Linked DNA regions of Homo sapiens. The protein of the gene in region 1 purifies or fractionates together with the protein of each later gene. This does not show direct contact. Each region holds a gene or a part of one and is shown on either strand. Other genes may lie near its edges.

Region 1 (3,651 bases):
AACGGAAAATGTTATTACCACTTCCCTGAAGTGCCCTCCCTTTCCCCATTTTTTTTTCTCTTGGCCCTAGAGATCCTACCCACTACTCCTACCCCATCCTGCACCCCATGCCTTTTCTCATTCTCTTGATCTCCATTTTTCTCTTATTGTTCTAGTATCTTTCAATAGGAGATTCAGATAGGGAACAAGTTTAACGTGAAGCATCTAACTGATAGCAGTGAGAACAAAAAGAAAAAGGATCTAAAGGAGACACTAAAAAAACCTGGTAAAGGTCTATAATTCCAAGTAATATGGTATATTCTCACCACTTACGTATTTTTTCATCACAAAGGTATACCATTCTTATCAAAGAATTATGTGAGTGTAAGTTTCACAACCACCTTCAAAAAGTTAACCACCACTTTTTATCAAACCTAAAACATCAATGGTCATAATATGCACCATTAGCTTTATATACCACCAAGTAAAAAAAAAATGCTTCCACCAAACTATGATGCAACATCGATTTTAGACGCATCTCATTTTCAGAGCTCTTCAAAGTCTTTGAGATGAGAATATTTTAAAAGGTCTACATTTTATCCTATTTATAAGAAAATTTATAGTACAACAAAGACAAATCCAACCTGCCTATAATTAACAGAATGATACATATTTTAAGAACACAATGCTATTTTAAAATTGACAGGGGCGAGACTTATCCCTCAGATGCTTTGCAGGTACTAAGTTTAAACAATCTTTTTAGTGTAATTCAGAATGCTGGGTTAAAGTCATTTAAAAAATAAGCTCCCTTAAACCCTAGCAATAAAAAATAATCAGAACTGTACTTCAGAATTGTATTTTCTGTTCAAGAAAAGTATACCTGTATACAAAAACATCCCGAACACACTGATTTCAGTGCAGAAACAGCCTAATATCCACTAAAAATAGCTTCTAGTGACATAATCTCTGCTCAGAAAATTAAAAGCTAATGTTAACATATTGTAGCCACTGATCAGTTGCATTTTGATAAGCAACTCTGAGTTAGAAGATAGTTCACTCTGACTTCAAAACCTCATGATTACAGCTTCACATAGCAAATGCTTAATTTTCACATTTTAAAGTCTTGTTTCCACTAGAATGTGTCTTTGTATGTTTAAAAATATTTTCAGTTTTGAAAATTCACTGTGGAATGTGATTAATTTTTGCCTACCTGGGGGTTTGCTAGAGTAGTCCCCTCTCTCACCCCTATAATGACACTTTCATTCAGAGGAAAGTTTTGAGCTTTTGCCTTCACATAGGTAACTACATTTCACAATTGTGAAAGACTTGTTAGTAATGTGATACATTCATACTTAAAAACAGGACCTGGAAATACCACTAAACCCAGGATACTAAAGCATCTTCAAGACAGTTGGGAAAAGATTAAAAATCTAAAGATCAGTTGAAAACATTTATGAAGATAACACCCACAGGGATTAAGGAGTCAACACTTCAGAACTGGAATATCTTGGGGTAGACTACTAACTAGCCAAAACTCATTAAAGAAGCAGAGAAGGGAACACTCACAGATTTAACTACCATAGTTGGCTAGTCTGGATTCCTCCTCCACAAGCTATGATCAATGGAGACACAAGAGATTGTCAACAGGGAACTAAACATGTTGCTTTTTAAAAAGTGTTATTGCTCATACCTCAACATCTAGAGTAGTAAAAGTTAAATGAGCGCATTGCTTATCAGTTTAATGCCTTGTCTTATTCATGTAATCTATGCATTAATTTAGATGTACTGATTACAGGAAAAGAAAAGTTAAAAGACTGGAAAAGAGCAATGATTACGATTTTTAACCAGAAGTGGGCACTAGAATCACTTCAATGGGTGCATTTTCAACATATACCAAAAAATTATATGTACCTGAGTCCCACCCCTGGAGATTCTGAAATATATGCCTGCCTCACAAATGCGACTGCTATCAAAGAATAGCTTGTTTAAGTAGAAAGAGCCTAAGATTTAAAGTTGAAAACTTAATATGAATTTCCATTCTCACGAACAAAAATGTTCGTCAACCTCAAGTTTCCTTTTATTCTTCTGTTAAAAGTACTCAAAATATTAGAGATGAAATTTTAAAGAATTGTGTGAAAAAACTTTATAAGTTATAAAAAAACACTATACAAAATGTTAGTTATTATCAGATAGTACTTCATGCACCTCTCCAAAAACAAAGTCAGTCATCTTCCTATTTCTTTTTCTCTCCATCTTGGTATTCCACTTGTTTCAAACCTGAACAATGTCATCAAATAACTCCATGAAGACCAGGAACTTAGGCGCCTATTATAACTGCCAGGCTGGGAACAACTCCAAGCATATGACACTGTCTAATTAATTTATGTTTTGGCTTCATTCTATATTTTAAAAGGATTAAAAACGTGTACTTTTTAATGTGCTTTTGACATATTTAAGTCACATGTTAATCCTATGAAGTAACTATTGTTACCTTCATTTTACACATAAGGAAACTGAGGCTCAAAGAAGTAAAGTAACTTACCAGAAGTTACTAAACTACTAAGTCCTGAGGTCAGGATTCAAATTTAGACTAAGTCCTTGGCATTTTTCCTACTTCATGAATTCTGCTACAAGAAACAATTTCACTTTAAAGCAACGTAAATACCAAAGCAACTGGACTGTTTTAAACAACTAAGTTTTAAATACTCAAGCTACATATTTAGAGGAAGTACTCTCAAGACTGGTCACACGCTTTATCTTCTGGATAAAATAACTGAAACGACCTTACAATTAACTGCTTACACAATTTAAAACAGCTCTGTCCAATAGAACTATGGACGGTGATGAAAAAACATCTTTTATCTGTGCTGTCCACAATGGTAACCACTAGCCACATATGGCCTGAAAACAGCACTTGAAATGTGGCCTGTGCAACTGAGAAACTGAATTTTTAATTTAATTTTGGTAAAATATGAAACCTTAAAATATATAATAGGTAATGAATATACATTTATAAACTAGTTACAAACTTCTGTTACTTGATATTTCACTTACAGCTTCTCAAGCTCTTAAAATTTGCATTGTCCAAAGAAATTACTTAAAATTCAAGCAGCCAAATATGCAAAATTAAAATACTTAGCAGGTCCAAGCACATATCCATATAGTTATTGCAGATCAAGACGACATGGAAAAAAAAAAAAGCAAACAGCCAAAATTCTTTAAAAAAAAAAACAAAAAACCAAACCAACAAATAAGACTGAATTTGTTAGGCAGCCAAGGAAACTTCATGCGAAAATTTCATAATCATCACAACTTTATTTTCAGATCAAGCATCCAAACAGGTATATGATCTTTTCAGCAAAATACAACGCCAAGCGCTATTATGGATCAGGCATTTTACCTGAAGACTTATTTTTTGTTCTTGAACCCTCAATGATAGCAGTAGAAAACAAAAGCAGCTGAAATGTGAAATAATCCCTAGAAAAATCAAGAATTAAAAAAATTTACAACATTAGTGAAAAGCAATTACTCAAAGAACAAAAAGTTGGGGCTCACAAGTTTTAATAATAAATACTTTCAGATATTAAGTTATCTCTTATACGTATAAAAGAACGTAACATTAACTAATTCTTTCAATTACAGATCCATGAGCTATTACTGTACTCAAATATA
Region 2 (3,651 bases), on another chromosome or scaffold:
TCCAAATGTAGCCTTCTAAGTCATGACTTACAGCAGAAATGAATGAATAAATGGCAGAGACAAACAGCAGCAATGTCTACTCTTGAGCTGGAAAAGGCAGACTGCTGCCTTCTCTTTCTGCTGGTAGAACAGGAGCAGTGGTGAGGCTGGAACATCCTGTCCCCCAAGAAAGGAAAACCAAGTTGCATCATTATGGAAAACCATAATGAGGAAACCAGGCATCCAGGGCAGGTCTCAGAAAGCAATAGGGAGCCGTGGACGAAACACACCTCCTGACGGCACCACTGCTCTGCTACTAAAATGCAACCTGGTGAGGTGTCGGACTCCAGAGCAAAACAGAGAGTGGATTCTGACCCGCCTTCCATGTTTAGACTCCACAGCCACCTCCCCTGCCATCTCCGCAGCCACTTCCTCTGCCATCCCCCACCATTTCTTGAGGTTTTCTGTGCCCCAATCCTAGAGTGTGGGACTCTTTTCATTCTCCTCTGATTTACTTCTCTTTTGGTGTTTTGAAAGCAGCTTTGCCCTTCACCTTTTATTCCTTTGTTAGCTGAAAAATACCTCTCCCCAGGATGAAACTTCTCTGTCTCCAGTTCATTTTTTGCCACATTGACTTTTTGCTGATCTTTACCATGGGGTGACAAGCATTCCCAAGATGACCACACTGGGGCAAGAGTAAGCTCTGAACAATTATATTGGCGGATGGCTATTTCCTTTCTCTAGCCACAGCCGTTATGCTTTTTGTGGAAAATGGAGTAAACTGGCTCTAATGACTTTAATCACCCTGTGTTGGACTCTTTTGCAGATTGATGAAATCAATGTCTATGGAAATACAGCGCTTCACATCGCCTGCTACAATGGACAGGATGCTGTGGTTAACGAGTTGATTGACTACGGTGCTAACGTGAACCAGCCAAACAATAATGGGTTCACCCCTTTGCATTTTGCTGCTGCCTCCACTCATGGTGCTTTGTGTCTTGAATTGTTAGTAAACAACGGGGCAGATGTTAACATTCAGGTATGACACTCTTAGTCTCTGTGTTGAATGCCTTTGCATTGAGCTTCTGTTTGAGCAAAATCAACTGCTGCAAATTATGCCATGTTTTAGTGAGTTGGAACCTCACAGCCTTGTCCTGGATTTGGAGGCTATAAGAAAAGTTGTCTGGAGGCTGAGGCAGGTAGATCATGAGGTTAGGAGTTCAAGACCAGCCTGACGAAGATGGTGAAACACCATCTCTACTAAAAATGCAAAAATTAGCCAGGCGTGGTGGCGGGTGCCTGCAATCTCAGCTACTCGGGAGGCTGAGGCAGAGAATTGCTTAAACCCGGGAGACAGAGGTTGCAGTGAGCTGAGATTGTGCAACTGCACTCTAACCTGGGCAACAGAGCAAGACTCCGTCTCAAAAACAAAAAAAAAAAAGTTGTGTTATTTTTCTTCAGGAGTGGTGGTATCAGCTGAAAGGTACCAAGGCTCCAGCCGTGTGTTCTTGTTAGCTTAGTGAATGTGTCAGGACAAATACTGGATCTCTAGGATATTGACTTGCCCAGAAGCTAATACTGAGGTGAATGTTGAGCTGATAGGGCAGTGTTGCTAAGAATTCAAAGGAAGGCCTAATAATGATTGTAGGCCTGTTTCCAACTCCAGTGTGGGTTTAGAGCTTCTCAGATACCTTCTTTCTTTTCTTTCTTTTTTTTTTTGAGATGGAGTTTTGCTCTTGTCACCCAGGCTGGAATGCAATGGCGTGATCTCAGCTTACTGCAACCTCTGCCTCCCAGGTTCAAGCGATTCTCCTGCCTCAGCCTCCCCAGTAGCTGGGATTACAGACATGCACCACCATGCCCAGCTAATTTTTTGTATTATTAGTAGAGATGGTGTTTCACCATGTTGGCCAGGCTGGTCTCAAACTCTTGGCCTCAAGTGATCCACCTGCCTCAGCCTCCCAAAGTGCTGGGATTACAGGTGTGAGCCACTGTGCCCAGCCAATACCTTCTTAAAGCAAACCCCAGATAGTGGCTTCAGTGATGTAGCACTGAGCTGGTCATCACAATCATTCCTTTATTCAGCAAATTTACTAAGGACTACCCAGTGCCCTCTGTTTGGTACTGAAAGAGTGCTCTAAGATGAGATTCAGTCTCTGCCTTTAAGGAACTTACAGTGTAGTAGGGAGGTAGCATGCACTCAGGTAATCATGAGCAAGAGAAGATATGATGAGAAGAGTCATAAAGCATTGCAAACTCTAAGAAGCAATTGTTGACTTGTTTTTTGCTTGGGAATAAAAAATGGAGATCGATTTTGAGGGGAGACTTGGAAGATTAATGTAGTTGAGTTGAGGAGGGATAGAGATAATTTGAGAGAGAGTGTTCCAGATAGAACAGCATGAGCAAAGAGGGGTGGGAATTCTGGATAGGAAAACCTCTAGGTAACTTGTCAGCTTGCCATGTGACAGCTAACCAAGGGGAGCTTATCACGCAGCATTCATAATTTGGGCGACATCACTTGAATGCATTTAGATTGTAGCAGAATATCCTTAGCTGTGCTAGGAGACCTTTTATTCAACCCAGGCTTCCCTTCTTCCCAGCACACAGGGATCCTGAAGCAAGGTCCCAGTGTATTCTGTCTCTGGTTTTGAAAAATGATTTCTAAGGTGTAATTTCAAGAATATCACATCAGTCTATTTTAATAACCTTCTCTATTCACTATTAAAATCTTATATTTTTTCACAATTTCTAATAGTGGTGAAAGATGTGACAAATTTTCAGAATAGCAATTGATTGTATCAAATAGAGTATAATTTTATGAACATGCCAAGTGTGGTGGCTCGGCCTGTAATCCCAGCTCCTTGGGAGCCTGAGGTGTAGGATTCCTTGAGCCCAGGAGTTTAAGATCAGCCTGAGCAACCTAGTGAGATCCTGTCTGTAAAAAGCTTTTTTATTTTTAATTGTATGACAGAAAGGAGCCAGAAATGAGCTGAAATGTGATTTGACCAAGGAAGAGGACTCATCTACTGGATGATTTTGAGCCCAAGGAGCTTGGGCCTCTCCAGGCTCTGCAGGCCACGAATCATTCTAGGGGTCATATGATCAGACCTGAGCATTAAAAACAGTAATCCGGTCACAGAACACCAAAGGCAGGAAAAAAAAAGGAAAATAATCATATATATGACTACAAAAAAGTCTTAAACATTTATAAAACAAAACAACAACAATAAAACCTCTAACATGAAATTAAAATAAGAGCAACTTAGGGAAAATTTTCTTCAATATACATGATAAGCAAATAGTTAATATGCTTGATATAAAAAGAGCTCATACAAATCAATAAGAAAAAGTGATCATTACTAGAAAACATGGAGCAAAAGTCAGATCACAAGAGAGAATAAAAAATACATTAAGCCTGTGAAAAACTAGTATTACTGGTAATTAGAAAAATACAAACTAATACAAAAACGTACATTTGTGTTAAAGAACGGCAAATATCAAAATGGCTAATAACACCTAGTATTATCAATGAAAACATTGAAATGCAATAAAGAAATATGATCTCTTTTTTAATGCTAAAATGTTATGGTTATGTGTGTAGATGATGCAAAAACAGAGAAAATTCTCTGGAGTATGTACCAATATGCTAGCAACAATTATCACTGCAGAGAG

The links. The genes of interacting proteins can lie anywhere in the genome.
Region 2: the proteins of ZNRF2 (region 1) and ANKRD44 purify together in Homo sapiens (affinity purification with mass spectrometry; one large-scale study listed by BioGRID and IntAct). This does not show direct contact.

Annotation. Positions count from the first base shown.
Region 1 is NC_000007.14:30,350,566-30,354,216, reverse strand, and holds part of ZNRF2 (E3 ubiquitin-protein ligase ZNRF2), read right to left. Parts: intron 3,457-3,651; exon of another isoform or gene 3,380-3,456; intron 1-3,379. UniProt on the Homo sapiens protein: E3 ubiquitin-protein ligase that plays a role in the establishment and maintenance of neuronal transmission and plasticity. Ubiquitinates the Na(+)/K(+) ATPase alpha-1 subunit/ATP1A1 and thereby influences its endocytosis and/or degradation.
Region 2 is NC_000002.12:197,118,699-197,122,349, reverse strand, and holds part of ANKRD44 (serine/threonine-protein phosphatase 6 regulatory ankyrin repeat subunit B), read left to right. Parts: intron 1-805; coding exon 806-1,018; intron 1,019-3,651. UniProt on the Homo sapiens protein: Putative regulatory subunit of protein phosphatase 6 (PP6) that may be involved in the recognition of phosphoprotein substrates.